Homo sapiens: one gene and its partners. The protein of the gene in region 1 interacts with the protein of each later gene in a biochemical or structural test. Each region holds a gene or a part of one and is shown in the gene's direction. Other genes may lie near its edges. The genes, in order: USP5, UBTD2, USP28 and RFFL.

Evidence for each region.
Region 2: the proteins of USP5 (region 1) and UBTD2 are reported together in a solved structure, tested with the Homo sapiens proteins (one study listed by BioGRID).
Region 3: of the proteins of USP5 (region 1) and USP28, one has a biochemical effect on the other in vitro, tested with the Homo sapiens proteins (one large-scale study listed by BioGRID).
Region 4: of the proteins of USP5 (region 1) and RFFL, one has a biochemical effect on the other in vitro, tested with the Homo sapiens proteins (one large-scale study listed by BioGRID).

What each region holds. Positions count from the first base shown.
Region 1 is NC_000012.12:6,857,576-6,863,223, forward strand, and holds part of USP5 (ubiquitin carboxyl-terminal hydrolase 5), read left to right. Parts: intron 1-53; coding exon 54-148; intron 149-848; coding exon 849-1,042; intron 1,043-1,894; coding exon 1,895-1,966; intron 1,967-2,575; coding exon 2,576-2,663; intron 2,664-2,790; coding exon 2,791-2,916; intron 2,917-3,377; coding exon 3,378-3,531; intron 3,532-3,867; coding exon 3,868-4,042; intron 4,043-4,894; coding exon 4,895-4,983; intron 4,984-5,569; exon of another isoform or gene 5,570-5,610; coding exon 5,611-5,648. UniProt on the Homo sapiens protein: Deubiquitinating enzyme that participates in a wide range of cellular processes by specifically cleaving isopeptide bonds between ubiquitin and substrate proteins or ubiquitin itself.
Region 2 is NC_000005.10:172,231,101-172,236,748, reverse strand, and holds part of UBTD2 (ubiquitin domain-containing protein 2), read left to right. Parts: intron 1-2,390; coding exon 2,391-2,627; intron 2,628-5,648.
Region 3 is NC_000011.10:113,811,691-113,817,338, reverse strand, and holds part of USP28 (ubiquitin carboxyl-terminal hydrolase 28), read left to right. Parts: intron 1-1,956; coding exon 1,957-2,165; intron 2,166-3,383; coding exon 3,384-3,454; coding exon of another isoform or gene 3,455-3,463; exon of another isoform or gene 3,464-3,584; intron 3,585-4,834; coding exon 4,835-5,063; intron 5,064-5,648. UniProt on the Homo sapiens protein: Deubiquitinase involved in DNA damage response checkpoint and MYC proto-oncogene stability. Involved in DNA damage induced apoptosis by specifically deubiquitinating proteins of the DNA damage pathway such as CLSPN.
Region 4 is NC_000017.11:35,010,773-35,016,420, reverse strand, and holds part of RFFL (E3 ubiquitin-protein ligase rififylin), read left to right. Parts: coding exon 1-51; intron 52-1,657; coding exon 1,658-1,681; intron 1,682-4,271; coding exon 4,272-4,453; 3' UTR 4,454-5,648.

The sequences.
Region 1 (5,648 bases):
CCTGGCTAGTCCTGAGCCACTTCCCCTGATTCTCTTCCTGCCTCCTGCTCTAGACGTGTACTCATATGATGAGGATGACATGGTCCTGGACCCCAGCCTGGCTGAGCACCTGTCCCACTTCGGCATCGACATGCTGAAGATGCAGAAGGTGAGACCCCCTTCAACTTCAGATTCTTCTACTTCCTGCCCCTGTGAGGGCCCTTCCTCTTTGCCTGAGGCTGAGGTAGGGTTTTGGAGAAATCTTCTAGTTAACCCCATCCCCAAGATACACAGGCTTCTTTTAAATATCTAAAATCATTTATTCAGTGAATAGTACTGAGTACCTACTATGTGCTAGAGGCTGTGTGAATAAGACAGATGTGGTTTTTGCTTACAAGAGTTCTACTCTAGAAGAAAAGGCAGACATTAGTCACATTCCCAGATAAATAAGTGAATAGTTGCAAACTGGTGGGCACTGTGAAAGAGAGGCGGAGGGTACTACAGTAATTGACAGCAGGGTGGCCTGGCCTAGTTTAGGGATCAGGGACATTTCCCTGAGGAAGCGATGCTTAACTGACAATGTGAAGGAGGTTAGGGGTAACTTAAGGATGGGAAAAACATTTCAGGTAGAAGGAAATTTTATTCCTCATTCAAGCAGAGGCCCTGATGACTAACGGGCCTCTGGGACAATTATGTGTGGCCTTCCAGAACTTGAACTGGACGATACTCAACATACCTCCCATGTTTGAGCCTGTAATTCCACAAATTCTAGGCCACAGTTGAGTATCATCCTAGACTCAGTGAGAGATCGAGGTAAAAACTACAGGGTTGAGTTTCTCACTCAGTCTGAAGTGCCCCTTCTCACACAGACAGACAAGACGATGACTGAGTTGGAGATAGACATGAACCAGCGGATTGGTGAATGGGAGCTGATCCAGGAGTCAGGTGTGCCACTCAAGCCCCTGTTTGGGCCTGGCTACACAGGCATCCGGAACCTGGGTAACAGCTGCTACCTCAACTCTGTGGTCCAGGTGCTCTTCAGCATCCCTGACTTCCAGAGGAAGTGAGTAGTGCCCTCTCCTTCCCCAGGCCCCCTCCTGGTCAGCACCCTCTGGGCATACTCCTCCTTCAGCTTCCCTCAGCACCTCTGTGTTTGATTCTAGTCTTAGAGTAGTTCCTATCGGCTGGGTGTGTTGGCCCACACCCGTAATCCCAGTACTTCGGGAGGCCAAGATGGGAGAATTGCTTGAGCCCAGGAGGTTGAGACCAGCCTGGGCAACATAGCGAGACCCTGTCTTCTCTTAAAAAAAAAAAAGAATAATTCCTGTCACACTCTGGCTGACATGCTGTGAGGGGAGCAAGTTAGGGAGCTGCACCACCAGCACCCCAACACACAAACCCCACTGATAGTGCAGAGTGCCAAGTCCCAGGGCTCTGTGGCCTTCTGACAGACTCAAGGGTTAGCAGGTGGTCTTTATTTTAGGGCAGTGACATCAGATGAGCACCTAACATGGACATGTAGCACTTGGGGAGGAGGGGGGCTTGGCACACTAAGAATAAAGGCAGGTTCTCAGCAGAAATGAGTTTACTTTCGAATTTGGGGAACAATTAGAATGTGAATGCTCAGAACATGTCAACAGGTTCTGTCCAATAGAACGTGAACTGCACTTATCCTAATCCCAGGCTACCTTCCCCCTCCCCGGCTCCTCTGCCGCCGAGCGTGCTTGCACATTGGACATAGCTGAGAAGGGGAGAACAGGCAGGTTGCTGGAGAGAAGCGACTCCAAGGTTCACCCACAGCAACTCCCCACTCTTGAGGGGAGCCCGTTCACAGAGTTAGTAAATGTTTGCTTCCTTCCCTTTTCCTCGGCGCTCAGGCCAGAGCCCCTCCAACTGTCCTTCCCTTGACTTTTAGGTATGTGGATAAGCTGGAGAAGATCTTCCAGAATGCCCCGACGGACCCTACCCAGGATTTCAGCACCCAGGTGTATGTAACCAGGTCCTATGTAGGAAAGCTGTTGACAGTCATGGCCGTATACCTTCCTCCTCCCTGACCGCCTGGGGGGCACAGCACTTTAACCCCTGGCCTTTTTTTGTTTTGTTTTGTTTTGTTTTTTGAGACGGAGTCTTGTTCTGTTGCCAGGCTGGAGTGCAGTGGCGCGATCTCGGCTCACTACAACCTCTGCCTCCTGGGTTCAAGTGATTCTCCTGCCTCAGTCTCCTGAGTAGCTAGGACTACAGGCACATGCCACCACGCCCAGCTAAATTTTTTTTGTATTTTTAGTAGAGACGGGGTTTCATCATGTTGGCCAGGATGGTCTCGATCTCCTGACCTCGTGGTCTGCCCACCTCGGCCTCCCAAAGTGCTGGGATTACAGGCGTGAGCCACCGTGCACGGCCACCACTGGCCTATTAGGAGCATTCGGGTGACTGTCTTCTGGACGTGTTGTCTGTCTTGAGCTGGGTTCCTGTAGAATCTAAGGTTTTTCACGTTGTTGAGAGTTAGCTAGGGAGAGCCACGAGCAGGGGGTTGAGCTGGGGACACACAGGGTCGTTAGTTGACTGAAGTGAAATGTTTTCTTGGATATTAATGCAGGGCCAAGCTGGGCCATGGCCTTCTCTCCGGGGAGTATTCCAAGCCAGTACCGGAGTCGGGCGATGGGGAGCGGGTGCCAGAACAGAAGGTGCGTCTAGGACCCTGTCCCTTTCAGGCCCTGGGATTGTGGGGAAGCTGAGGTCTGGGAGATGTCTAAAGAAGGCCCCTGGATGGCCACTGAGCCCCAGCTGAGTCCCTGCCCTGACTCTTCCCAGGAAGTTCAAGATGGCATTGCCCCTCGGATGTTCAAGGCCCTCATCGGCAAGGGCCACCCTGAATTCTCCACCAACCGGCAGCAGGATGCCCAGGAGTTCTTCCTTCACCTTATCAACATGGTGGAGGTAAGGGCTGGCAAGATGGCACACCCCCATCTTCCTGCAATTTACTCGCTCTCCTTCCTGCCCATTTCTCCCTCTATCAGCCCCAACCCAGTCCCATCCCTGAACCCCAACAGTCTGTGTCCCTGTGAACAGTGCTTGCACCTGAGGAGGACAGTGAAGGTGATGATCCCTACCCTTGATGGGCTTGAAGCCCAATTCAGATTATGCCCAAAGACAATGATAAGAGAATACTTGCTGCTTATAAAGAAAAATACAAGCGTGTTCTAACACAGTCCCTCAGTGCAGGGATGGGGCCAGAAATGGGGAGGGGTTGGTGAATTAGGGAAGGTTTCTGCTCTGCTCTTGTGTCCCTGAGTTCCGAGTGGTAGTCTGCCTTCTCTCCCTGACTCTCCCATGAACCTTTCAGGCCCCATTCTGTTCCCTGGCTGCCCAGACCTCCCTACCCTGCCTCTTTCCCATAGAGGAATTGCCGGAGCTCTGAAAATCCTAATGAAGTGTTCCGCTTCTTGGTGGAGGAAAAGATCAAGTGCCTGGCCACAGAGAAGGTGAAGTACACCCAGCGAGTTGACTACATCATGCAGCTGCCTGTGCCCATGGATGCAGCCCTTAACAAAGGTAGGCTGCTCCATCAGCAAGGCCGTGGCACGGTGGGAGGCTAAGGTCTAGGAGGAATGCTTGGGCACCTCATGGGAGCACAGCCCAGGGAATGCCCTGCTTCACCAGCCAAGGTTCCAGTCTGGGCCACCAGGAGTAGGTAGATTAACCTCGTCCAGTGGACACTCAGCTTGTTAGCAGAGCTGCATGGAAACAGGCGAGATATATTGGACATGTGTCAGGGGTGCTTTGGAAGGGTAGAGGAACTGAAATACGGACACAGAGCCAGTAGGGAGAGGCTAAGGAGGCAAAGAAGCAGCACCCTCCGAAGGATCCACCAACCCATTCTGTCACCAGAGGAGCTTCTGGAGTACGAGGAGAAGAAGCGGCAAGCCGAAGAGGAGAAGATGGCACTGCCAGAACTGGTTCGGGCCCAGGTGCCCTTCAGCTCTTGCCTGGAGGCCTACGGGGCCCCTGAGCAGGTCGATGACTTCTGGAGCACGGCCCTGCAGGCCAAGTCAGTAGCTGTCAAGTAAGTCCTCTGGTCGGGGCCTGAGGCTGTGGGTCTATGGCAGAGCTATCCCAGAGGATACTTCTGTCTCTTCCCTGTTCTTTCATCCCTTTGTGGTTGGAACCTCAGGGTTGAATCAGTTGGGCTGGTAATCTGGCCCTGATGGAACCAAGGGGCCCTGGTAGGGGGGACACGGGTACTGACTCTATCTGTCACCTTGTCCTGCCCCAACCACTCCCTCTTCTGTGGCACAGGGTCTCTTTGTAGTGTAGCCTCTCTTCATTGCCCCTCAGTCATGGCTGAGCACAGGCACTTAGGATCAGCTGTGGGCAGAATTTGGATTTCCAGCAAATAGCCACACTTTGAGCCTAGCCATTGGCACCTGGCATGGGTGTGAGACCTGAAAAAGGGCTTTGGTCTCGGGGAGTCAGCTACCCAGCCCTTTGCTGCTCCTGCCAGTGAAACAGCTCTTCCTCTCTGTGTGGGTTTTTTTTTTTTTTCTATGTGTGGGTCTTGCTATGTTTTTTTCCCTACGTGTGGGTCTTGCTATGTTGCCCAGGTTGGTCTCTTAACTCCTGGGCTCAAGCAGTCGTCCTGCCTTGGCCTCCCAAAGTGCTGGAATTACAGATATGAGCCACCATGCCTGGGCTTTTTTCTTTTTCTTTTTTTTGTTGACAGCCTTCCTTCTGGCCTCTACTGCTCCTCGTTGGCCGAGGACAGGCATCAGACACCTGCCCAGGGGAAGAGAAGAATATGGAGGATCTTCTGGGTTATTGGGACTTCTACCCATGAGGGGCTGAACCCCAGGTGGGAGTTTCAGGAGAGGAAAACCCTGGGGATTGTCTGGGTACCAGCACAGTCTCTCTTCCCTAGGACCACACGATTTGCCTCATTCCCTGACTACCTGGTCATCCAGATCAAGAAGTTCACCTTCGGCTTAGACTGGGTGCCCAAGAAACTGGGTATGGCTGCTGGAATGAGGGAGGTTACACAGAAAATGCTAGAAAAAGAAGGGGCTTTAACACATATAAACTAGTGTTTCTCAAAGTTTCCTCTGAAAGAGGAAAAAAAATCACCTTCAATGTTTCAAAATTTATCTAGTTTGAAAGCACTAACTAAAAATATTAAAAGACTTCTTTGATTGTTATAGGTATGATTTACAACCAAAAGTGATTTTTGTAGTTTTTTAAAATAATTGGTAAAATGTTTTCATTTTGATAATCTTGAAACAATTAATTCTCGTGAGTCTTACAGGTCCCTGACTGTCATTTGAGAACTCGTGATGTACCTTCATTTTCTAGATAAGGAAGTTGAGACTCACAGGAATATAAAATCATTCTGTCTCACAAGTTCTAGGCCCCCTGCCCTGTCCATAGATTATTTATGGTAGATCTAGGACCAGCATCCTGGCCTCCCAACTCCCAGGCTTAGTATTATTTGTCTTATACTGGGACCCCTAAGATGGGTGCCGTGCTTTTAGCAGCTCCTCTTTACAGAGCAGTTCTGACATAGGGGGCAGGGGATTGAGGTTCCCGAATCACTTTCCAGGTAGGCCTCCGGGAGCTGCTGAGGTGACCCTTTTCCCACAGATGTGTCCATCGAGATGCCAGAGGAGCTCGACATCTCC
Region 2 (5,648 bases), on another chromosome or scaffold:
TTAATACATATGAGGCCAGATAATTCTGTAGAAATACTCAGACCCAAAACTTTATTCAGATAAATATCTTACTGAGTCTACCTGCTTACTGTGCCATCTTCCACTTCCTGGTCAGTAAGCTGAGTGTTGTCTGTAAACTGTCTCTAACTCATCTAAATGATAATGTAGCAGAAAATAAAATCAACCTTGCATTCCATCGTGTTGGTGCAATCAGTGGGTTGTGGTTATCAGACCAGATTCTGAACATCTTCTAGAGAATTATGCTCTAGCTGCATTGTCTGTATTATTTGGAAGAGGTAGGGAAAAATCATTAGTATAGACTGTGTTTCTCGCATTTGAATTAAATGTAATAGGCACATCTGTAGTGTTACTCCCAGTAGACACTCAGTACATATTTGTTGATTAAATAAAGAGACTTGGATTCTGTTTCCAGCTCTGCTACTAAATGGATGGGTTTCCTATTCTGCTTCCTCACCCTTTCAGAACTCACCTGTTTTGCATTTCACTAGGACAAGTTAGAGGGCAAAAAGTATTTGAGTTAATGCTGAGTGTTTTAAGTGGAAAACAGCTAGTCTTTTGGTGTGCCACCCTGAGGGGAGAGGACAGAAGAGACCTGACCTGGCAGTCTTTATTGAGAATATAGCCTGGAGAGTAGAGATAGCCCAGGGTCTGGAGTCATTTTATTTTCTGTTTTGCATAGTCCAAATTTCATCTGGCCCTGGGCCAATGAGGGAGTAGTCAATTTCATGGATGCTTTAGAACCAGTTTGAGAGTGATTTCTTTAAAATTGGTATTCTTTCTGCAATTAAATATAGAACATTGAATTTTGACACACACCCTCTCTCCTTCCCACTCGCTGTGTCATTTATTTCCCACCCACTCTTTTCCAACACTCTTCTTATCTTTTCATCCAGCTTCAATTTTCTTTCTATCTTCTATCCCATCTATCAAACTATTCCCTATCTATAGCACTGTATAATCTTACAGAGCCATAAATAAGAATGGCTCTGTAGGTCAGTATGACCCATGGAAATAGATCACAGATAATACACCAGATGGTTATCTGGGTGCAAGGATGCTGCATCAGGCTTATTCCAGCGCTACTACTACATAACATTGTCTAAGGGGAGATGCTGCCACTTGCCCTCTGTTTTCTTCTTCTCTTGGGTTGAAACTAGGGTAGGGTATCATAGTTCTTCTGCTCCTTGTGGTTCGGAGCTAATCCCTTGGCCTAGCATCAAAGATTATCTCTTTTACTCCCAGTTCCTCAAAAAAACTAAAGTACTGATTCTACCCTTTGTAAATTAGTTCCTGTTTGAGTTCCAGAGAAAGGTATTTACAGTTCCTTGACTAAAGTCCAGAGAGTAGAATGCTAGAGGAAGCATTCCTCTAATCAGTTTGTTCATGATTCTGGTGGTTTGGCTCTTCTTTCTCTGGGCACTGAAAAGCAATCTTTTACCTCTTTGGATTTTCTCAGTTCCTACTTCCTGGTTTCATGTGTCCAAGCTACTATTGCCGTTTGCTTCCCCAAGTATCTTGCCTCTCTTTCGTGGTGTCTCTTGACTCTCATATCCTGCTCTTACAGTCTGATGAAACACTTACCTTCTAGGCAGTTCTTTTAAAATGAACAAAACAAAACTTTCATTGTATTAAAAAAAAATTTTTTTAGAGCAGTTTTAGATTCATAACAGAATTGAGAGGAAGGTACAGAGATTTCCTATGTACTCCCAGTGCCTACACATACATAGCCTCCTTTCCCTGATTATCAGCATCCTCCACCAGAGTGGTACATTCATTACAACTATAATTCTCTGGGGTTCTTTAGTTTTGTTTTGTTTTGTTTGAGATGAGGTTTCACTCTCGCCCAGGCTGAAGTGCAGTGGCATGATCATGGCTCACTGCAAACACAACCTCCCAGGCTCAAGTGATCCTCCCACCTCAGCCTCCCAAGTAGCTGGGACCACAGGCACATGCCAACATGCCAGGCTAATTTTTGTGTATTTTGTAGAGATGGGGGTCTCACCATGTTGCCCAGGCTAGTCTCGAACTCCTGGATTCAAGCCTTCCTTCCACCTCAGCCTCCCAAAGTGCTGGGATTACAGGTGTTGAGCTACTGCACTCAGCCTGTAATTCTTTTTAATGATCCTGTGGAGGGTGTACTGAGTGGAAAAGAGCTACCAATTTGTTTTGCATAGAGCAGTCTAATGTCTCTATTCACTTTTGTAGTTCCAAAATGTGTTAGAGGAATTTCAGGATGCACAAATTAGCTAGCAGGTAAATTTCTGGCTGTGATTTTGATGAAATAATCCAAGAGAGGAATGACCAGATAACTTTTGATACATATTTTATAAATTTTGGGTTTGATCTCAGTCTTTTATTTTTCTTTTCAGTTGCTCTAGGTCGTAACCAGCCTTTGAAAAAGGAGAAACCAAAATGGAAAAGCGATTATCCTATGACAGATGGACAACTACGCAGCAAGAGGGATGAATTTTGGGATACAGCACCAGCTTTTGAAGGCCGGAAAGAGATTTGGGATGCCTTGAAGGCTGCTGCACATGCTTTTGAGAGCAATGATCATGAACTGGCACAAGCAATCATTGATGGTGCAAACATAACATTACCACATGGTAGGTTTGGTGTTCCTCAAGGACAGAGGAAACATAATCAACTTTGTTTCTGATAGCAAGAAACCAAATGGGAGAGTGTTTTTCCTTGCTATGAATTATTCTAACTTTTTTTTTTAATGTAGCAAGGAATAGCATTCCTCTTTTTTTCTTGTACATCTTTCAGCTGGAGACAGGTTTTACTTTGTGTGTTTGTGTATACGTATATATTTTTTAAATATATCTTAATTTCAGAAAAGAACTCTTGATCATCTAAAAAGTTTCCGTGTAACCTAGTCCTCCATGAAGACCTCTTCCCTCCACCCTCCCACCCCCACCTCACCAGCCTCATCACCCTGCCAATCTATTGGAGCTTCCACTTCACTGGTTTCCTCCTAGCAGCGCTAGAGATAGAGTCTCAGTTTAGATTTTGTAAGCTGTAGAGACTCAGAGGATGCTCCTTTTAGTCATTATACTTTCTCATCAAGCCTATTTTTGGCATAATAAGCAAACCCAAACTTAGAAGAGAGTCCCGCATGTTTTTAAGGACAGTTTTCCATGATTGTAGCCCTGAGCATTCTTAGGAACTTCTCTCTTTTGCGTAGGAATGTGACTCTTTTAAGGATAACTGTAAGCTTTGAATGTTTCTGGGGATACACATATGCTGGTCCATGTACATACTCTTGTTTGGTCTCCTTGATGAGAAACATAGAATTTTTCATGCTACATTGAGATTTAGGTGTTAATTTTGTATTTACATTTTTTATTTCTGTATTAATATTCTCAGTATTCTCTTTAGTTTTTCAACTTAATATTTTTCAAGGTTGTCTTTTCAGATTTATGTAATAACCACCTTGCATTGATTCTATTCATTATTGTACCTTCATTGTTTTAATCCCTAGTACGTCCCTTTATCTACATTCTTAGAGGAACAGGGACTTTCATTGTTGAACCATCTGCTTTATGTCCTTTCACTGTATGTCACATGAAAGATTTTTATTTTATTCTATTCTTTCTCTCTCTCTTTTTTGAGACAGAGTCTTGCTCTGTCGCCCAGCAGGCTGGAGTGCAGTGGTGCACTCAGCTCACTGCAACCTCCGCCTCCTAGGTTCAAGTGATTCTCGTGCCTCAGCTTCCCCACCATGCCTGGCTAATTTTTGTATTTTTAGTAGAGACAGGGTTTCACCATGTTGGCTAGGCTGGTCTCAGCTCCTGACCTCAGGTGATCCGCCCGCCTCAGCCTCCCAAAGTCCCTTTTTTTAAGAGACAGGTCTCACTCTGTCATCCAGGCCAGAATGTGGTGGCACGATGACAGCTCATTGCAGCCTCGACCTCCCAGGCTCAAGAGATCCTCCCACCTCAGCTTCTCAAGTACCTGGTACTACAGGCACGCATCACCATGCCTGGCTACTTTTTTTTTGTTTTTTTGTTTTGTTTTGTTTTGTTTTTGGAGAGGCATGGTCTCACTATGTTGCCCAGATGATCTCGAACTCCTGGGTTCAAGCAATCCTCCTGCCTTGGCCTCCCAAAGTGCTGAGGTTATAAGCATGAGCTGCTGTGCCTGTCCAAAAGATACTTAACTTACTATATCCTTGCCAGATTCCAAATCACCATTAGTTTTCTGATTAATTGTGCTTCCAAGAAACATTCCTTTTTTTTATAGCTGCCTGTTCTTTATTATGAAAGTTTATTAGCATAGTCTTCTGTTACTAATGTTATTGAGCACCCACTGATCACTTTTTCTATACATGTATAAAAGTGATCCCTCCTACATTTGAAGAATTTATAATAGAATGCCATTTTCAGTGTGACTTTTTTTTTTTTTTTTTATGACAGTGAGTCTTTTTCTTTTGGTAACTTATTTTATTTTTTTGAGACAGGGTCTCACTCTGTTGCCCAGGCTGGAGTGCAGTGGCATGATCTTGGCTTACTGTAACCTCCACCTCCCAGGTTCAAGCAATTTTCATGCCTCAGCCTCCCAAGTAGCTGGGATTACAGGCATGTGCCACCAGGCCCAGCTAATTTTTGTATTTTTTTGGTAGAGACAGGGTTTCGCCATGTTGGCCAAGCTGGTCTCGAACTCCTGGCCTCAAGCTATCTGCCTGCCTTGGCCTTCTAAAGTGCTGGGATTACAGGCGTGAACCACTGCACCTGGCCTCAGTATGACTCTTTAGTCTCAGTTTTCATGGATAGTCTCTAAATTCTTTACTTTTATGTGATTGTGGGTTGGGAGGTGGTGGGCATCATCTTAGTCCATTTACCTTTTTCAGTTTTGTAATTATCGTCTTCACATACCACCTTTATATAATATAACGGGAAGGAGTCTTCCTTTACAGATAGTTTTATCATCCTTCTCTTTTTGATGTCCATATCCTCTGTTTTTCAAGGAAAATATATGTTTTATAGACCTGTATGTGGGTGGAAGAAGAGTCATGTATGTGTGATTGTGTGAGATCCAGAATGTTGGAACTTTGAATTTCTTATTTTGTACTTATAATTACCTACTGGAATACCTGGTTGCATTCTGTATATTGTAGCCTTGTTTAAAACTTCATGGAGCCAAAATAATTCTGTTGCATGTAAGGCTGGGCCTCATGCATATCCTACTGGATGTGGGCTCAGATCACTAAAGACCGAAGTCCCTCATTTCTGCTTCTCTGTGGAAAATGTTCCCGGCAGCCCTGCCTACCAGCAGATCAGGGAGAATTACTCTCAGAAATTCAAGAATTATTAGATGACCCTCTATTTGCCTTCTATGTTTAAGGAATATTTTCTCCTTAAGCATGGAATAATCAAGCCAATATCTGAGCCTTTCTCTTTCAAAACTCTGTGATAACATTCTGGGTGTTAATATTGTCACTGATGCCCTTGATTGACTTCTTTTGTTCATATCTGAATCTTGTCAATATTTCTTGGACCTTATAATTTTGTTTTGTCATGTACTCTAACTCACCATCAGTTTATAACTAGGCTATTGTATGCTTTTACCTAGACTGGCTTAGTGGTATTGCCGAAATTCTTTCCATCTTTTTTGTGTAATTACAT
Region 3 (5,648 bases), on another chromosome or scaffold:
AGCCCTGCTCTTCCAAAACATCTCATGCTCACACACTTGAAGTATGCATGACTAAGAAACATCAAGGAAAGAGAGACTTATTCTTGAATAGAAAATTAGTACTTGAAAAAGAACTGGCTAGAAATAAGAGGACAGCTTAGAGGGGCTTCTCTAGTAAAGGCAGAGGGAGGCAAAGTCACAGGAGCCCTCTGATTTTATTCCATCCAGTCATGTGCAACAATCTTTATTGCCTAGAGGAGCCATGAAAGGTAGCTAGGACATTTGATATGTGTTACCTGGCTAATAAAAACACTAATACTCAATAAAAAGTTAGACTTTTTTGTCAAAAAATCTTAACTATTCTCCCCAACACATCCCCCGCCACCGCCCCACGTATTAATATTTATTCATCCATGTATGCATAGAAATGCTTATTTGGATAGAACATACCAAATGTCAAGAATGATTATCTCTAAGGAGTGACATGAGTCTGGGGATAGGAGTGGGGCTGCTCTTTCACTTTTTATATTCTACTTAAATTTTTTAATTTTTGTAAAAATAGAATCTTTTTATGTATATTATGAAATGTAAAGTTTTAATTTTTAAAAAGTGGTTCGGCAGGCTATTTAATCAAATAAAATAATAGTGCTTGGTATTAGATTTAAAAATTACAGGGAGGTGTATGTGTGTAATCTCCTCTGAAATTGAGATATCTGTTCCCTTGTTGGGCTTATTTTTCCATAAGTATGGACCTTAGGGAAAAGAGATTTCCTCCATTATTTTGTGCATGTGAGAGAGTGAGGAGGAGGGAGTGAGGTTTTTTTGTTTGTTTGTTTGTTTGTTTTTTTGAGATGGAGTCTCACTCTGTCGCCAGGCTGGAGTACAGTGGCATGATCTCAGCTCACTGCAACCTCCGCCTTCTGGGTTCAAGCGATTCTCCTGCCTCAGCCTCCCAAGTAGCTGGGACTACAGGCGTGCCACCATGCCCAGCTGAGTTTTGTATTTTTAGTAGAGATGGGGTTTCACCATGTTGGCCAGGGTGGTCTCGATCTCTTGACCTGGTAATTTGCCCTCCTTAGCCTCCCAAAGTGCTGGGATTACAGGCGTGAGCCACCGTACCCGGCAGGAGTGAGAGTTTTTTTTTAAGTCAAAGTAAAGGAAGTTTATATTCTTCAGCTTTGGTGTAAAAGAGAAACCTAACTACAATTAGAAGCTTATTTTATATTCCTGCTGGTTTGTTGACCTGCAGTTTTACTCTGACAATAGAGAAATTAACATTTACTTGATATGCTTTATTCTCTGTTAGTTTACAGAAAAGACGTAAAGAACTTAAGATTTATATTTTGTAGATGAGATATTAATACTTTTTTCCTTGGGTATTTAGCTAAAGTAGTAGAGCTAGGATTGTTTGACTTGAAGCCCTTCTCTCAGAACTCTCCAAGGTGTCACCTAGTGTGTATTCCTGTGAGTTGTATGTTCAGCTGATGCTTCCTTTTTCTTCCTTCTGTGTATTTTGTTCCAGGAAGGATAGTGTCACTTTAGTTGGCTTCATCTTGTAAACTCTGTAGTTGATTCCTTGATTCTTCCAGGCCTAGTCTTCTCTTTTCCATTTTCCTTCTCTTCCCATCCTCATGGGAAGGAATAATCAGTGATCAGAGAACATGAGCTAAAGACTGGCCGATCTGGCTTTGGATTCATTTTCATTACCTTCCAGCTTGGTGAACTTGGGCATGTTGCTTAATTTATTTAAACCTTAGGCTCACAGTTGGTAAAATAGGGATAGAAAAGTATCTACCTCACAGGCCAGTTGTGGTACGTGAGATGATAGAGAAAAAGGTTGGCTCTGTACCTTTATAGAGTTAATGCTCACTGAATACCTGTACTTTTTCATATAGCATCTTGCTTTCCAAAGTACATAATTTAGGCCAAGGTATCTTTTGGAAATTATCATATGAGCATGATTTTTGTCTTCCTCAGTACAAGTACAGAAAGCTCTTCTCAGGATGTTGAAAGTACCTTTTCTTCTCCTGAAGATTCTTTACCCAAGTCTAAACCACTGACATCTTCTCGGTCTTCCATGGAAATGCCTTCACAGCCAGCTCCACGAACAGTCACAGATGAGGAGATAAATTTTGTTAAGACCTGTCTTCAGAGATGGAGGAGTGAGATTGAACAAGATATACAAGGTTGGCTCTTTTAAAATTTGTCAGTTACTCTTTGCTTTTTCTGTTTTTTGACTATTTGGAGGTTAAGCACCTCGGTACACTTCCTGACATTACTGTACATGCTACAGAATTTCCCCCCCGCCGAGATGGAGTCTCACTCTATCACCCAGGCTGGAGTGCAGTGGTGCAATCTCAGCTCACTGAAACCTCCGCCTTCCGGGTTCAGGCGATTTTCATGGCTCAGCCTCCCAAGTAGCTGGGATTATAGGCATGTACCACCACACCTGGCTGATTTTTTTTTTTTTTTTAGTAGAGATGGGGTTTCACCATGTTGGTCAGGCTGGTCTTAAACTCCTGACCAAAACTGATCTGCCTGCCTTGGCCTCCCAAAGTGCTGGGATTATAGGTGTGAGCCACTACGTCTGGCCCATGCTTTTGAATTTTGACATGGTAATTGTGACTTCTTTTGCACTTTTAGTGCCCTGTAAACTTGGCTCACACACCCCCATTATACAGATATGGAAAGATCTCCCCCTCAAAATTTCTGGGAAATGATCACCTTTGCTGAGATTTTTCTGCATCAACTGATTTCTGTTTCTGTGGTAGATTATCTGAACTCCAGCTTAAGTTGACCCAGATTTAGCATTTAGCTTTTCTGGACTTCTACTCTTCAGTCTTTTCTATAGGAAGCATGCTTTACTGAAGGTTAATGAGGTATTTGAGCAGTATGCACAATGTAAAATTGGATTATTCAGCATTGTATTCTTAAAAAGCCCTTTGACCTCATTGCCCATATTGCTCAGACTAACCTTACCCCCCTTCCTGTCTCCTTTTGTCTAGGGAACAAAAAGATGATGGAAAATACAGATTCTTCCCAGATTCCTATTCAGAGAAATTTAGCCTTACCCTTTGTTCTGCTTTCTCATTTCAGATCCTGTCTGAGGCATACATTTTACAGCCAAGTGACCCATTAAGATCTTTTCCTAAACAGCTTACTCTTTAAGAAATTTTGGCAATTATAAAAAATAATGTTTTAAAACCTTAATGTAATTATATTGAACTAAAAGCTTTCATAACCTAAAGTACTAGCTGCTTTAAAACTGTATATTGCTTCGTGGTTCATAGAGGGAAGCTGAAATCATTAGGACCCTAGCAATATTCTTTGCTTAGTTAAAGTAGCCTGTGTGACATAGAATGAGATCATTTTAGTGAAGCTTTTGTTTTTCTTTTTCCAAACAGATTTAAAGACTTGTATTGCAAGTACTACTCAGACTATTGAACAGATGTACTGCGATCCTCTCCTTCGTCAGGTAGAATGAAAATTGATGGGAAAGTAGTCAAGGCATGTGCTAATGGTAGATACAAAAATCAAATTTGATAGTTTTCTTTTAAACCCAATGGGAATCCCCCTAAGATAAAAGAATAAACTTAAGATATAAATTGATGTTGTTCTGTTTCTTTATTTTAGGCTAAAGAAAGCAATATACCTTTTACCAAAAACAGGACCTAACACATACTTGTTTGAATTCTGCCACATGGAATTTTTTCATATTGTAGAAAGGTTTGCTGTCAGATACTAATAAAAATTACTTACAAAATGGTACTTTAAGTAGTGCAGTGGGAAAAACTGAACTAGAGAACAGTTATCCTTTCTTTCCCAAAGTTCCATGATTCTTCAAGATCTTTAATTTAACAACATGCGTTCAAGCTTTATTTCTGTAATAATAAATTCCAAAAGAGAGTTAGGACAGAAATTCTTAACTATCCACAGAAGTGTTTGTTAGAATAAATTCTGGGAATGGAGGGGTAAAGAGCCTCCAGGAGTGTCTCTGAACCTATTCTGGTTAGGGGCATGGACTTTCAGTGGCTTCTGTATGAATGACTGGAATGGGCAGAATGGCTTGGAGGAGGGGAGCCCTGTTTCTAGAATGGCATTGAGGCACAGTCCCATTGCTTAACAGGAATGCACCATGTAAAACGCAGGCTTCCCCATTTTTTCTTTTGTGTTAATTCAAAAATCTTCACCAGTAATTAAAATAGGTCAAAGTAAGTGTAAATTTAATTTGATTCTGTGACTGACTTTCATCTCTTTTACTAGTATTTAGTTAGCATTTAAGCATTGCTCTATTTTCTCTATATTGAAAATACACAAATGTGCTTTTCAAATGTTGTAACAAACAAGTATGTCATTAAAAGGGTCTTCACTCCAGATAGATAAGTGGTCACTTAACTCTAAGAAGCATGTGGCTGAATTAAATATGTTAACTTAAATTTTGTTGCCAAATAAAATAGGCATGGAACAAAATAGCTGCTAACCTTTGTAGGTCCCAAATATGCTAAGCATTTTCAGCATGAGTGGTCAAGGTGATTCTATTTTTAGATAAACAGAGTTTTGAATTAGAAGGATGCATATGTTTAGGTTATGTTTGGTTTTAGATCTGAGGAGTTTAGAGTTGAAAGAGTCTTCAGAGAGGTCATGTAGTTCAGCGATCTGGTTTTCAAGGTTTTGGAACTGAGACATAATTGATCAATTCCAAGGCTGTGTTTTTGTGGACTTCATCTTGAATCAACAAGATGTTTTAATATGAACCCCACATTAATCACATCATAAACAGTAATTTCTTAATAACCTAAACTTTATCAGATTACTTTGCTTCACCTGACTGGGGAATGTACATTCTGACTTACAGGTGCCTTATCGCTTGCATGCAGTTCTTGTTCATGAAGGACAAGCAAATGCTGGACACTATTGGGCCTATATCTATAATCAACCCCGACAGAGCTGGCTCAAGTACAATGACATCTCTGTTACTGAATCTTCCTGGGAAGAAGTTGAAAGAGATTCCTATGGAGGCCTGAGAAATGTTAGTGCTTACTGTCTGATGTACATTAATGACAAACTACCCTACTTCAATGCAGGTAAAAGTATCTTGGCAGAATCTATAGATTGGGGAAAATCTGTACTGCTCAGGGAGAAGAACAGTCTTGTACTGCTTTTTAAAAAATTTACAACTTACTATTATATAATAATAGATTTAAAAAATATAGACAGTATAAAAGGAAATGAAAAGGAAAAACAAGTTTGCTTTACTACTTTCTTCCTTGACCATGGGTCCCACTCCCAACAAGTACACAATGTTAGGTTTCTTATGTAGTCTTCAAGACACATTGTATACATATGCTAGATTCTATTTATCTGTATCTTCCCCTCCCCCTTTTCCCCAAGTAGATTATTTTTCCATTCAACTCTGAACCTTTTTCATTAATCGAGTATTTAGCAATCTCTATATTTTTAGTAAAAGAATCTTAACTGTTTAACAACTATATAGTAATTCATTGTGTGGAATATACGTATTTTTAAAATTTACTCGTAGATAGACTAATTCTCTAGTTGTTGTTGTTTTTAGTGACATCTTTTTTTTTTCTTGCCCCATCTTATGGTGCTGATAGTACATATATTTTTGCACCCTTTGGAGAATAACTAAATTTTTTCTTTCTTTTTTT
Region 4 (5,648 bases), on another chromosome or scaffold:
TGGAGAGAGTGACCCGGCTATACAAGGATCAGAAAGGACTCCAGCACCTGGGTGAGGGGCTATCTGCATGGTAGCTTTACAGAGCTCAGGAGTGTTTGCTGTCACTCCAAAGCATGATGGTATTGACCTGACTCAATTTCCACACTTAAGCCATGGAAGGAGACACCTTACATATTTGCACCGTCTAATAATAGCTGTCATTTGTGGTTGAGTGTCAAAACTAGATTAGGCATTGCATGTATGTATTTATTCCTTAGAGCAACCTATGAAATAGACATTATTAGCATCACCCCTTTATCTGAAAGGTAAAATTTAACTGAAAATTTTATGGTCTAAGTCCATAGCCTTTCTCACCATATGCTATCCCCTCCCTACTCACCACCACCTTGTAAGTTTTCTTACCTTAGAATAAGAATGCTTGTTCTGAAGATTTGGGAGGTAGAAAGTGAATCTACATACATGGCAGGAGAAGATAGCTGTTCCATCTGCACTTGGGCTCTTCCTTTTGTTCATTTCCCAGAGCATTTTACACTGTATCATTCAGGAGATGCCCAGGAAAATATCTGGGTCTGTGGTTAAATGAGTTTAGGGAAAAATACCTCATATCTTCATTACTGATTTATGGTAGATTTTTATATTAAAGGCAGAGAAGTCCTGCAGAAGAGAAATGTGTTTTGGCTGTTTTGAACTTAGCATTTCCTGAAATTATTTCACCACAGAATCTTCTCCTTTCCTCCCATCCCCAGTTGATTTGGTTCCTACAGAGCAACATACTGATTCCTTGCTTGGTAAGAGTGGTTGAAGTCAGGTTTCAGGCTCTCTTCTACCAGTAGCTCAAATTCATCAGTGTTAGGGGTCATCTGACTGACTCTTCACCCGATTACAGACTGAGGCCTACTGACATGGAGTCTGTTTTCCCTTTGGGATTGTTTCAAGAGTCTTCTCTCCAGTCGTCAGGACCTGGGGAACAGAACAGATGACTCCACGTGGGAACTTTATCCAGATTCTCTGACTGACTGAAACAGCTAGATAGTTCATTCTTTCTTGACTTTAATGCTGACTTCAAAATAGAAAAGGATATTGCACATATACAGTATCCTTCTACTTGGCAGTTTGTGCAAACTGGTGGAATACCTTTTCCTAAGAGTAGACCAGGCTGGGTGTGTTGGCTTATGCCTGTAATCCCAGCACTCTGGGAGGCTGAGGCAGGTGGATCACTTGAGATCAGGAGTTCAAGACCAGCATAGGCAACATGGTGAAACACCATCTCCACCAAAAACAAAAAATTAGCCGGGAGTGGTGGCATGTGCCTGTAGTCCCCAGGTACTCAGGAGGCCGAGGCAGGAGAATCGCTTGAACCCATGAGAAAGAGGTTGCAGTGAGCCAAGATCATGCCACTGCACTCCAGCCTGGGCAAGAGAGTGAGGCTCCATCTCAAAAAAATAAAAAATAAAAGTAGACCAGATGCACGAGTAGGAGCTTTGTGTGAGTTCTGAGCATGTAGAGCGAGTAGAGGGCAGATGTCCATCTAGGCTCTTGGCAAGCCTGGTTCCCAGCAGGGAGTGGTAAGAGTTCAGAAATGATGTCAGGGCAGTAAGAGACTGTATTTGTACCATCATGCCTTACCTATTCAGACATCCTTCTCTTTCCTTTTCAGTCAGTGGTGCCGAAGACCAAAACGGTATGTAGTTGTTTCTGTTTGGGAATGGGCTTAGGCCCTTTTGTCCTTCCCCTCCTTCAACCCCAATCCCTTTAGTAATCTAAGAATTCTGAGCATTTGAGCCCCCAGAGAGAGGGTGTGTGGGAAACTCACTGAGACCCAGGGGGCCTCTCACCATCTTTAGAAATTCTCTCTGCTCGCTGTGCAGGAAGCAGAGTGGAGCATACGTAGGGGCGGACTGACTGATGTGCATGTCCCTGGGCTACCTGAGCTCATAAGCCAACATTTGTAAAACACTGAAACAGAGGAGGGGTGGCATGTATCACACTCAGCTCATTTTTTAAAATCTTGGTGTTTTCAGTTCTGGTCTGGGTAGGGAGGGTCTCTGTGTACACCTTCTGGGGAATCAGGGTGTTTAGCAGCTTCTGGTACTAACCAAAAAGAAAGGGTGGTGACCTGAGACAGCCCTGTTTGTACAGGGCTGGTAATGGTTAGAGCTACTCTGGAGCTAACACATGTGCTACTCTCTGGGCACAAGCTATATATCTCAGCTCAGCTGCCACTCACTTAAAGACCACCACTGGGCCCTCAGGTACTCCCAGAACACACTGCAGAACTCCTGACCATCTGTGGGGACATTCTAAAATATGCTATGTGTTTTCAAAAGCCTCAAGGGTATATGGTTGTGAACTCCCTTCCAAGAGAGAACGTTCTAAGAGTAGTGTTGGACTAGCCTGCAGCATTTTAAAACTTATTTCAGAAGATTTCCCAAATTTATTTAGTAAAATGGCCTTTTGCTCAGAATGGGCAATTTTATGTCTGATTACTTCTAATCAGACATAAAAAACAGTTGAGCTTTTCTCAATTCCCCAAAACCATTTGGAGTTCTAGACCCACCTCCACCCTCCAACCCCCCAGCATCACCGGTACCAAGATCAGGCTGATCTACTTGGTGCTTCCTTTCTTTTTCTGATTCCCTGGGAGAATGCTGACAACTGAGTTAATGTGTTTGTTGTTACTTCTGAGAGAATGAGTAACTGAAAATTATAAATTATTCCCATTCATCTTAGGTATTTGTATAGTCTCCAAACCTCTGTTAGGACCAACAGCACCTCAAAAGAGGCAAATGGGTTTCACTCCCTTTCACACCCAGCCTACCTCCTAGGGGGAAGTATTTCTTGACTTTTTAATAGTCCAGAAAAGAGAAAGTATAGATGCAATAAGGGAGAATTCCTCTATGGGTTGGCCAACCCCCAGATGGTAGAGGTGACTTCTGTGAGATCAGTTCCTTTTTATGGGTACCTACTTCAGGCTACAATTTAAGACATATTGGAGATGGCTGGGCTTTTGAACATTATTTTTTCTGTTTGGGTCAGCTCTACTAGGATACTGGTCATGCCCACTATATTCTGCTAGTGACACAAGCCAGTTAGCATTTATTGAGAACCCTGTGCACTCAGCAGTTGATACTGTCTGGATAGTTTCTACTCTTAGGGCAGTTAGGCAGAAGGCCATTCTAGAGCAGGAGCTGTGGGGCCAGCCTGCCTGGGTTTGAATCCTGGCTCCTCGACTTAGCAGCTTTGTGCCCTTGGGCAAGCCACTTAACTTTTTTGCCCCAGTTGGCCTCATCTATAAAATGAAAATAACAAGAGGTCCTACTTTATAGTTTTTGTGAGGCTTCAGTGAGTTAACACATGCAAAGCTTTCAGGACCCTGCCTGGCACACGGTAAGCATTCAGTAAATGTGGGATGTTGTCATTCCCTTGGGAAGATGTTCATTCATCAGACATTTAGAGTACCTACCATATAACTGGCATTGGGGGCTTCAAAGATGAATATCTAACCTTGGAGCATGGAATAAATGCTAAGCATATAATTGTAAAAATTGATTGAATATGTTGAATTAAAGAGCTCATAGTCTACTCTGGGAGTAAGTAGGCAAACTCAAAATTTTAATCCAATGTGATAAGCAGTCATGGGGGTATAAAAAAGTTTTGTGGGGGTAGAAAGAGGGAGCAGTAATCTCTGCCAAGTTTCTCCACCAGGAAGTTTCCTCAGGAAACCTGGGAGTAGTTTGTGAGATAGCAGAGGGGTCCCCCATGATCCCTGACTTTATTAAATGGAGGATATGTTTATAGATAAAGCCTTGTGATCCTTAATGAACCATTCATCACAGTTCCATTTCTATCTAAACTTTTCTGAACCAGTTTTATCTTTTTAGCCTGTTCTGCCTCAGGGGATAATGAGTCCCTACGTGCCACTCACACACTCACTATATTACAGCCCCAACAGTCTGAAAATTATTTCTTTTAAGCTTTGAGAACTTTGCCTTAGTTCTCATGTTCTGGGATGTGTCTGATCCACAAGTGCTGTGTACTTTTCAAATCTTTACCTGTTGGAGGGGATGAAGTGTGGATTAAACAAGTAACCAGAGTTGGTTATTGAGGAAATGTTTCCTCGGAGGAGCTCTATTTGAGGGAAGCATGTGCACTGAGACTTTGTTTACAATGTACCTGTTATCTCCCACCTCCCTCCCCCAGTCACCCCTATACACTTAAGACATTCTCCTCACTCCTCTGCCCCTTTTTTTCTGCCCTGTGTGTTTGTACAGGGGGAGCAGTACCATCAGGCTTGGAGGAGAACCTGTGTAAGATCTGCATGGACTCACCCATTGACTGTGTTCTTCTGGAGTGTGGCCACATGGTAACCTGTACCAAGTGTGGCAAGCGCATGAATGAATGTCCCATCTGCCGGCAGTATGTAATCCGAGCTGTGCATGTCTTCCGGTCCTGAGAGCTTGCATCGGTTTCTTCAGTGCCTTACAGGGAAATAGCCTGGGGTGTCTGGGCTCAGGGTTGGCCAGCTTGCAGAGGAGCAAGCTAGTAGAAATATTGCAGGGTTCCCAAAACCAGGTCAAGCAAGATGCCATGTCACCCCTGAGCATGCCTGTCTTCCCAGGGGTGTACCTCTTGGCTGGCAAAGCCCAAGGCCAGTGGGAACTTGTATAAATCACATGGGTATGTTCTTGGTTCAGTGATCTTGGAGTGATGATGGTAACTGATGAACAGAGAACTTTCCAGAACTTGGGTCCTGTCTTCCTCCCTGAACCTAGACAGTTTCACCCCTCCTCCTGTACCCAACCCATCCCCACCCCATATGGGAGATGCTTGCCCATGTGTTTCATCAATCAGAAGTCCTCCTCCCCAGCACATTCGGATTTAAATTTCTGGTCTCTCCGGCTTTCTGTGCTTTAACTATCTTTGCTAAAGTCTCTTGCTACATTGCCTAAATCCATTTGTTTCTTTGGACCAAAAATGTTAGTTTACCAGACCGATAGTGGTCCTTAGGACAGATTTTAGACCAGTAAACTTATCTTTGGTGAGAAATGAAATACAAATGCTATAGAAAAATTTCAAAGTTGTTAAAAGCCACTTCATTAAATGCTGGGATTGGAAGCTGTTGGTCTCCTGACCTGACTCTGGGAGCCAACAAAACATCAGGCTCCCAAACTGCTGGGAAATTTGTTTCTGTCTGCAAGGGATAGTGCGTGCATAATCCCTGCTGCTGCTTCTCTTGGGACCTGATTTGCACCATCCTTAGTTTATGCGGAAAGGGGAAGCAATGGGTGGAGGCAGTGGCCTTCTCCTTAATTTTGGCTTGGCTTCTGATCCTTTTCCCAACTAGAAGTCTTAAGCCACTTTTCGCTGAAAATGAAATCCCTCCCTTATCCATGGTAGTTTTAAATTTGGTTTCATTGAAGAAATAGATTTAGGCAAAGAGCCTGTGCTCTTCTCTGGCCAGACTGCTGTTGAAGTTCCTGGAGAGCAAATGTTAAGACAGAGCACTTAAGAGCTTTCAGGAGGTACTGAATGAGACTGGATTCTGTTGTAAGCCGACAGTTCAAGTCTTTATTTCCCAGGTTGGTGGGGAGTGAGGAGACCCTACTTTCATTCCCTTTCCTAGCCCACTGATTTTTGGGGGCAGGTCA